Regions from separate parts of the Homo sapiens genome. Here region 1 is linked to region 2. A link means that fine-mapping ties the variant in region 2 to the expression of a gene that starts in the linked region. Tissue or cell type: caudate. Region 2 holds a variant in brackets; the other region holds the start of a gene. All regions are shown on one strand. Distances are from middle to middle.

Region 1 (5,004 bases), 310 kb before region 2:
TTTTGTATTTTTAGTAGAGACGGGGTTTCACCATGTTGGCCAGGCTGGTCTCAAACTCCTGACCTCAGGTGATCTGCCCGCCTCAGCCTCCCAAAGTACTGGGATTACCGGCATAAGCCACTGTGCCCAGCCCTGTAGCATTATTTCTAACAACAAACAATTAGAAAAATTAAACACTGCCTATTCTTTTTTTTTTTTTTTTTTTTTTTTTGAGACAGGGTCTCACACTGTCATCCAGGCTGGAGTGCAGTGGCGCTATCTTAACTCACTGCAACCTCCACCTCCTGAATTCAGGTGATCCTCCCACCTCAGCTTCCCAAGTAGCTGGGACTTCAGGTGTGCACTACCACATCCAGCTAATTTTTGTATTTTTTTGTAGAGATGGGGTTTGGCCATGTTGGCCAGGCTGGTCTCAAACTCCAGGACTCAAGCGATCCACCCACCTTGGCCTCCCAGAGTGCTGGGATTACAGGTGTGAACCATCATACCTGGCCCAGAAACTGCCAATTCTTTTTTTGGAGATGGAGTTTTGCTCTTGTCGCCCAGGCTGGAGTGCAATGGCATGATGTCGGCTCACTGCAACCTCCACCTCCTGGGTTCAAGTGATTTTCCTGCCTCAGCCTCCTGAGCAGCTGGGATTACAGGTGCCTGCCACCAGGCCCTGCTAATTTTTTGTATTTTTAGTGGAGACAGGGGTTTCACAATGTTGTCCAGACTGGTCTCGAATTCCTGACCTCAGGTGATCAGGCTGCTTCAGCCTCCCAAAGTGTTGGGATTACAGGCGTGAGCCACCGCGCCTGGCCTAGAAACTGCCAATTCTTAAGCAATGTAAGGGCATTTAGTATGTACCAGGCACTGAGCTGAGCAATTAAAATATAGAGTAAGAAAGAAGATCCTGCTCTACAAATAGATGGTAATAACAATAAATCCATAGCTTTTAATTCCAAGAATCTCAGCTGAAAAAAAACCTTCATAAAATTGTACAATTGTATTTGTGAATATCAGTCATAGCGTGCTATTTTAGGATAATCCAAGTCCCAGTTGAGGTTAAAACAAGACAAATATCTGTTCTAGTAAGTCCCACTTGCTCAGCCTAGGTGGTCCCTCAAAATGTTCTCTTCACTGAGAATGGCCCAAGGGGCTGTTTCTCATACCTGAGCCACCTGACAGCAGATGCTGGCACAAACAGCGGGAACAGTGCCAGACTCGCACACACCAAGGCTTTGTGGAGAAGAGGGCCCACCAGGTGCGGCAAGGGATATAGGCAGAACTTCCTGGGAAAGATGGAAGGGAAAGCAAATGATAGGGTCTAAGAAGGTCCCTCCTACCTCCAACAAGCTGGATTTGAGGCCAAGCTCTGTCACATCCTGGAAGTATGACTTTGGGGGTTACAGGACCTGTCTAAGGATCAGATTCCTCATTCATAAAGCGGGTCTGTTATAAAAATCAAAATTGTAGTGTATGGGAAAATGTCTTGTGAAGTAGAACATACCATAAAATAGGAAGGATTATTGTTGTATTACTGATAGAAGTGAGGGATCAGTTAAGGGGAGGAGCCAACATATATGGAGAACCTGGAGATTTACTCATGTTTCTCATCTAATCCTCTCTACAGATCAGAAGCAACACTGCCTTTAGTGTACAATCATTTCTACTATGCTACTACCCCTCAGAAACTGAGGGTCAGTTGGAGGGGTTAGGTGCACAGTCTGAGGCCACACGGGAGTCTGGCAGAACTGCAATGTGAACCCAGGCTTGTCATGATTCCAAATTTTTCCTTGATATTGTGCTACTTCCCGGGTTGGGAACTGAAAATTAGAATGGAGGGCTTGCTAGGCATCTGCAAAAATAGTGGGCGTGGGGAGGAGCAATGGGGCAGGAAATGCGACTCACCAGTGAAACTGTCATCCTGAGGCACAGGGCCCAGTAGGGAAAAGAAAGGAAAGAGCTATTATTAGGAGAGACTCCCATAAGGCACATTCCTGGGGTCTTTGCTTCAAATCAGCAAATTCTGAGCCCCATAGCTAATAGCCCATACCTTCTGGCTCTTATCTTCCCAGCTCCACCCTGTCCAGGCCCTCAGCACAAAGGACCTTGGCTACCCCTTTGAGACTAGGTAGAGGACACATCAAAGCTGCCACCAGAGCACAGGGACTGCGGAGGTAGCACAGGGCAGGCAGGGGAGTGGGGAGCTTTATGGCTGTGCCAGGCAGGTGTCCCTACCTGGCAGCAGCACCTTACCGTGTGGGAGGCCAGAGGACAGCGGGTGTTCCAGTGGGGCAGGTGGCGAAAGCCAATCCCAGCAGAGTCAGAGAGGTCGATGACTATGAGGAGGAGAGGCAGGAGCAGGGCTGCCAGTCTGGAGCTCCCCATGGGCTTCTGTGCAATTAGGGCTCCCGGAACATGGCTGCATGGCCTGAAGGTGGGTGGCAGGGCCTTGCTGTGCAGCAGCGAACACAGTACCAGCAGGAGCCCTCGCCCCAGCCTGCCCTGGCCCCGCCCTGCCCGAAAGCTCCTCCTTGATCCCAACCAGCCAGCCAGGCCACATTCCTTCCCCTCCAAGTGGAGGGACTGAGGAAAGCTTGTGCCCCCAAAAACCCTACTGCCCCCCACCTGAAAGACAAGGGGCTCCTGCTGTGGGTGAGAAGTAACAGGAAAGGGGCTAGCATCAGGTTGGGGGACGCACCCATTTCTTAGCCCCTCCTACTCCTGAAACACACTGCAGATCTGATCCACCCATCAGCACACTCTGGAACTTGTGTCTCCCATAGACATGCGCTTCACCCCCTCACTTAGAGAATTAGCCGAGCTCTTAAGCACTACTCAGCACTGGGTGCTGGAGATACAGAGGTGACTGAGGCACCATTTAGAGTGGGGAAGAAAAAAAGCACTCTAGGATGCACATGAAGCCCATATGTACCCTGGCTTCCCAACTGGTTAACTCTCAGGACTATAGCCGAGTTCTCTCTACCCATGAGCCAGGTCCAGCTCTTCTAGGCAAAGGGCTCCATACCAAAGGGGCCTCTAGCTTCAAGGACCCACTAGTCAGTACGCCCTGCTCAGGAAGCCCCAGAGCTCACAGCTGAGCCCTGGAGCAGAGGGAGCGGGCCCCACACACTGACCTGGTTTCCTGTGGTTTCCGGTGCTGGAGAAAGGCTGACGAGGCTCCATCTTTGTGGGAACCCTCCCCATCATCCCACAGCTTCCTCCCCTTCATGGAGCATTTGAGCAGCTTCAGCCCTCACCTTGGTAACACACACACTGGAAAGAAAGTTTGGGGCACACCTACCAGGTCAAGGCATCTTTTTTTTTTTTTTTTTTTTTTTTTTTGAGACTGAGTCTTGCTCTATTACCCAGGCTGGAGTGCCGTGGCACAATCTCTGCTCACTGCAACCTCCACCTGCTGGGTTCAACCGATTCTCTTGCCTCAGCCTCCTGAGTAGCTGGGAGTACAGGCACCTGCCCCATGCCTGGCTAATTTTTGTATTTTAGTAGAGACAGGGTTTCACCATATTGGCCAGGCTGGTCTCGAACTCCTGACTATGTGATCCACCTACCTTGGCCTCCCAAAGTGCTGGGATTACAAGCGTGAGCCACGGCGCCCAGCCAAGGCATCTTGAGATTGTTATTGTCCCCCTGCAATTCAATCTAGACCACCTTTCAGTGGCCTAACCACAGCCTGCTTTTGGCCAATTCTATTCCTGTCTTTAGGTTCATTGTCTGAAGGCTGCATCCTACCCATTATCCTAAAAGTACCCTCTAGCTTTTTGAGTTCATGAAAAGATAAAAACTCTTATTCTTTATGTTTCTCCAAGCCTAGCAGTAGATATTATGAAGTATGTGCTGTGTAATTGAATAAATGTCATGATACATTTCATCTATGTAGTTTATCTGTTTCACACTTCACAAAACACTTTTATATTTAATCCTCCTAACCCTACCTGTGAGACAGGTAAGTGTTAATTATTGTTTTCATTTCATAGAGAGATAAGGAAGCAGAGGGATAATGATTTGGACAAGGTCAAAGTCTATAGTTCAGGGAGCTCCCCTTTTGCTAGGCCCTCGCAACTCAACTCTCTCTTTTTTTTTTTTTTTTTTGAGACAGAGTCTCACTGTGTCACCCAAGCTGGAGTGCAAATGGTGCAATCTCAGGTCACTGCAATCTCCACCTCCCAGGTTCAAACGATTCTCCCGCCTCAGCCTCCCGAGTAGCTGGGATTACAGGTGCACGCCACCACACCAGACTAATTTTTGTATTTTTAGTAGAGACGGGTTTCACCATGTTGGCCAGGCTGGTCCTGGACTCCTGACCTAAGGTGATCTGAGCCCAGCTTGGCCTCCCAAAGTGCTGGGATTACAGGCATGAACCACAGCACCTGGCTTTTTTTTTTTTTTTTTTTTTTTGAGATAGTCTTGCTCTGTTGCCCAGGCTGGAGTGCAGTGGTGTGTTCTTGGCTCACTGCAACCTCCGCCTCCTAGGTTCAAGTGATTCTTGTGCCTTAGCCTCCTGAGTAGCTGGGATTACAGCTGTGCACCACTATGCCTGGCTAATTTTTGTATTTTTAGTAGAGACAGGGTTTTGCCACATTGGCCAGGCTGGTCTTGAACTCTTGGCCTCAAGTGATCCACCTGCTTCAACCTTCCAAAGTGCTAGGATTATGGGCATGAGCCACTGTGCCCGGTACCAATTCTCTATCATCCTATGGTCTTCCCTCACACAGCCTCATCTTCCTCTGCTCTTGGAACCCAAAAGGGGCTGCCTGACACAGACCCTAACACAGTATGCCTTTTGGCCTTGAAGTCCATCTCTGCAAACAAAACAGTAAGATCTGAAAGGAGGAAAGGGTGGTCTGGCCATACTAAGAATAGGTTAGAGAGCCTTCCCCCAAATTCTACCTAACTCACAGTGGTTTAGAGCTATATAAATATGAGGTTTCTTTCTTTTCTTTTTTTTTTTTTGAGACAGAGTCTCACTCTATCACCCAAGCTGGAGGACAATGGCGC
Region 2 (5,004 bases):
CCCGCCACCAAGCCCGGCTAATTTTTTGTGTTTCTAGTAGAGACGGGATTTCACCATGGTCTGGATCTCCTGACCTCGTGATCCGCCCGCCTCGGCCTCCCAAAGTGCTGAGATTACAGGCGTGAGCCACCGCGCCTGCCCAGGAGAAACTTAAGTTTATAGTTTGTAGTTTAAACAAAGATGGTAACAGCCTTTTCCCAAAGCAGACCTCCTTCTCGCCTGGAGACTATATTGCCTTTGTAGGACTAACAGTAGCCACAAGATTGGAAATTATGGTTTAAGGGTCATGCAGCTGGAGGTTATAAGATTCTGACCCTCCCTGAACTGCTCCTAAGATCAGTGCTTGATTTTGCAGAGCCTGCACATGATGGATCAGCTGGCCCCACCCAGATCAATGAACTGGCTCATCTGATCTCGTGCCCCTCCTCCCCAACCCAGTAACTGACTGCGTAAGAAGACGGCTTCTACTCCCTATGATTTCATCTCTGACCAATCAGCACTCCTGATTGGCTTCCCCTCTTCCACCAAGTTATCCTTAAAAATTCTGCTCCCTGAATGCTCAAATGCTCAGAGAGGCTGATTTGAGTAATAATAAAACTCTGGTCTCCCACACAGCCGGCTCTGAGTGAATTAGTCTTTCTCTATTGCAATTGCCCTGTCTTGACGAATCTGCTCTGTCTAGGCAGCGGGCAAGGTCAGGTCAACCCCTTGGGCGGTTACAAAACCGCCTTTGCAAAAATTATAACTGAGGAAATTATGGCAGTGAAAGAGATCAGATCTAACTGACTCCATCTTGCTTCTGACCTTCAAGCTGTCCTTGTACATTCTTGGGTGGATGCCAAACTAACTTTGGGAAGGAATTCAGTTCATGATTTGACTCTGAAACAAAATTGGTAATAGCCCTTTCCCAAAAAGACACAGAGAAATTTAATATAGCAGGCTCCAACTTCCTTGTAAACTCATAAGCTAACTGCCCTTGCCAATTCCTGGGCAGGAACTCCTGGGAGGAATTTAGTTAATAATTTAACCTTAAAGCAAGGATGATAGCAGTCCCTTCCCAAATTACCCTCTCCTTGTTTGGGTACTGACATTGCCTTTGTAAAACTTATGAAAGGCCATAAGATTAGAATTATAGGTGGGTCCTGAATTCTGCGACGACCTATGCAGAGTTTAATAATAACTAGCCATTGTTTTCTAATTTGCTTACTGCTCAGAATTCATACAGCTAGTGGTCACGAGATTTATAATTTCTCTAGTTGCCCCTATAGGTAACATCACTATTGTAAAACCTAACATTGGTATTTGTGATATTTTTCAGGCATTGCATTCTGGTGGAACAACTGATGCCACCCAGACTTGTGACCCCCACCCAGGAACTGACAGAGGCACAGAGACAGTTTTGATAACCCTGTGGTTTCATCCCTGACCAAACCAATCAGTATTTCCCATTCCCTAGCTCCCTGCCTGCCAAACTATCCTTAAAACCCTAGCCTCCGCATTCTCTGGGAGGCAGATTTGAGAATTGTCTCATCTTCTCGCTTGGCTGGCCTTGCAATTAAACATGTTCTTTGCTGCAAAACCTGCTGTTCTCAGTGCATTGGCTTTTCTGGGCAGTGGGCAAGAAGAACCTCTTGGGCTGTTACAAAACCATATGATGATCTCAAAAAATGCACCCACAAGAAAGGCATTTGAAAAGAAAGTCTAGGTCAGGCGCAGTGGCTCACACCTGTAATCCCAGCACTTCGGGAGGCTGAGGTGGGTGGATCACGAGGTCAAGAGATCGAGACCATACTGGCCAACTTGGTGAAACCCCGTCTCTACTAAAAATACAAAAAAAAAATAGCCAGGTATGGTGGCGAGCACCTGTAATCCCAGCTACTCAGGAGGCTGAGGCAGGAGAATCACTTGAACCCGGGAGGTGGAGGTTGCAGTGAGCCGAGATTGCGCCACTGCACTCCAGCCTGGTGACGGAGCGAGACTCCGTCTAAAAAAGAAAAAGAAAAGAAAAGGAAGTCTAACATCATTTATGATAAAAACTGTCAGTATACTAGTAACAGAAGAGAATATCCTCAACCTGATAATTGATATCAGTAAAATACCTACATCTAATATCATATTTAATGGTAAGAGACTCAGTGCTTTTCCACTGAGAAAGAGAACAAGGTAAGGATATCTGTCCTTGTCACTCCTATTCAACATTGTAATGGAACATTACATTAAGATTATAAAAAAGCATATAGATTGAAAAGGAAGAAATAAAACTATACTAACAGATTACATAATCGTCTATATAGAAAATCTCAAAGAATCTACAAAAATGTCCTACTATAAGTAATAAGCAACTTAGCAAGGTCACAGGATATGTG[G/A]TCAATAAAAAACCAATTTTAATTCTGTACAGTGAAAATTGGGGCAAGGAGTGGTGGCTCACGCCTGCAATCCCAGCACTTTGGGAGGCCAAGACAGGCAGATCATGAGGTCAGGAGATGGAGACCATCTTGGCTAACATGGTGAAACCCTGTCTCTACTAAAAATACAAAAAAATTAGCTGGGCGTGGTGGTGGGCGCCTGTAGTCCCAGCTACTAGGGAGGCTGAGGCAGGAGAATGGTGTGAACCTGGGAAGCAGAGTTTGCAGTGAGCTGAGGTCACGCCACTGCACTCCAGCCTGGGCAACAGAGTGAGACTGTCTCAAAAAAAAAAAAAAAAAAAAAAAGAAAAGAAAAAGAAAGTTGGAACTTGAAATGTTAAAAACCGTCTGGGTATGGTGGCTCATGCCTGTAGTCCTAGCACTTTGGGAGGCCGAGGTGGGTGGATCATGAGGTTGGGAGTTCGAGACCAGCCTGGCCAACATGGTGAAACCTTGTCTCTACTAAACATACAAAAAAATTAGCTGGGTATAGTGGCGTGAGCCTGTAGTTCCAGCTACTCGGGAGGCTGAGGCAGGAGAATCACTTGAACCTGGGAGGTGGAAGTCACAGTGAGCAGAGATCGCAGTGAGCCGAGATCGTGCCACTGCACTCCAGCCTGGGCAACAGAGCAAGACTCTGTCTCAAAAAAAAAAAAAAAAAAAGACGAAGAAATGTAAAAATCATTGTGGCCAGGCGCAGTGGCTCACGCCTGTAATCCCAATCCCAGCATTTTGGGAGGCCGAGGTGGGTGGATCACGAGGTCGGGAGATCGAGACCATCCTGGCTAACACGGTGAACCCCATCTCTACTAAAAATACAAAAAATTAGCCGGACATGGTGGCGGGCGCCTGTAGTCCCAGCTATTCGGGAGGCTGAGGCAGGAGAATGGCATGAACCCGGGAGGTGGAGTGTGCCACTGCACTCCAGCCTGGGCAACAGAGCGAGACTCTGTCTCAAAAACAAAAACAAAAACAAAAAACAAACAAACAAAAAAACCATTGTAATGTGAAGTACCATTGAAATGTAAAGTACCATTGCCAGTTGCAGTGGCTCATGCCTGTAATCCTGGCACTTTGGGAGGCTGAGGTGGGTGGATTGCTTGACCCTAGGAGTTCAAGACCAGCCTGGGCAACATGGGAAAACTCAGTCTCTACAGAAAAAAATACAAAAAATATCTGGGTGTGGTGGTGCATGCCTGTAGTCCTAGCTACTTGGAGGCTTAGCTGGGAGGACCACTTGAGCCCCAGGAGGTTGAGGCTGCAGTGAGCTGTGATGGTGCTGTTGCTGGGCTTTTCCTTAGTTCAGCTAAAGATGGAGTCCTTGTCACATGGCCATGAGAATCTAGGCTTGCAGACAATTTGAAGAATGAGAAAAATGGGATTTATTGGGCCAAATGGGAAACAGAGGGAAACAGGGACTCTCAGCAGAGTGAAAGTACTGTTAGTATGTGCTTCCTGCCTCATGGATTGAATTGCAGGTTCCACCCAGGTAAAGGAGGGGCCAGGCTCCTCCCCACTGCAAACAGCAGGAACTTCTGTGTCTCCATCCCAATGTGCACTCCTCCCAGTGCACAGGCTGGTTGAAGTTTCTCTGGGGACCCCTTCCCATCTGGCTGTCTCAGTGCCATTGCACTCCAGCCTGGGTGACAGAGTGAAACTTTGTTTAAAAAAAAAAGTATCCTTTATGATAACACCAAAAGATGTGAAATAGGTATAAATCTAACAAAATGTGTGCAGCAGATTTACACAGAAAACTACAAAACCCTGATGAGAAAAATCAAAGGAGACTAAAACAAACGACAAGATATATCATGTTCATGGATAAGAAGACTCAATATTATTAAGGTGTCTTAAATTGATCTGTACATTCAGTGCAATTGGTTTTAAAGTTCTAGCAATATTTTGGTAGTCTACAAGCTGATTCTAAGAATTACGTGGAAAAGAAAAGGAACTAGAATGGTCAAAACAATTTTGAAAAAGAAGAAGAAGTCTAGGTGCGGTGGCTCATGCCTGTAATCTGAGCACTTTGGGAGCCAAGATGCATCACTTGTGGCCAGGAGTTCAAGACCAGCCTGGGTAACATAGAGACACCCCATCTCCAGAAAAACATTTTTCAAATTAGCTGGAGGCTGGGTGCGGTGGCTCACGCCTGTAATCCCAGCACTTTGGGAGGCCAAGGCGGGCAGATCACAATGTCAGGAGATCGAGACCATCCTGGCCAACACAGAGAAACTCTGTCTCTACTAAAAATACAAAAAATTAGCCAGATGTGGTGGTATGCACCTGTAGTCCCAGCTACTCAGGAGGCTGAGGCAGGAGAATCGCTTGAACCTGGGAGGTGGAGATTGCAGTGAGGAAAACAAAAGAAAATTAGCTGGGTGTGATAGTGCACACCTGTGGCCCTAGCTACTAGAGAGGCTGAGGTGAGAGAATTGCTTGAGCCCAAGAGTTAGAGACTGAAGTGAGCTAAAAACAAACAAACAACAAAAACAAACAAACAAACAAAGTTGGAGGACTCATAGTACCTGATTTCAAGTCTTACTACAAAGATAGATAATCAGGGTAAAGTAATATTGGCAAAAGGATGGACACATACATC

The links. PIP is the estimated chance that this variant, and not a neighbour inherited with it, causes the effect. A credible set is the group of variants that fine-mapping cannot tell apart.
Region 1: it holds the start of IL17RE, and the variant in region 2 is the best candidate, but not a certain one, in a credible set for the expression of IL17RE in caudate (GTEx, PIP 0.86).

What each region holds. Positions count from the first base shown.
Region 1 is chr3:9,900,302-9,905,305 of GRCh38, reverse strand. IL17RE (interleukin 17 receptor E) reads right to left here and starts at 2,458. Exons shown (of 16, transcript NM_153480.2): 1 at 2,242-2,458; 2 at 1,894-1,909; 3 at 1,155-1,274. The coding sequence starts at 2,373. RefSeq lists an enhancer at 1,585-2,254.
Region 2 is chr3:9,594,978-9,599,981 of GRCh38, reverse strand. LOC105376949 (a long non-coding RNA gene) reads left to right here. Exons shown (of 3, transcript XR_940586.1): 2 at 356-449; 3 at 1,319-1,561. Among named protein-coding and RNA genes, the nearest start is that of LHFPL4, 44 kb to the right of the region's middle. The variant G/A (reference allele first, on the strand shown) is at 2,367.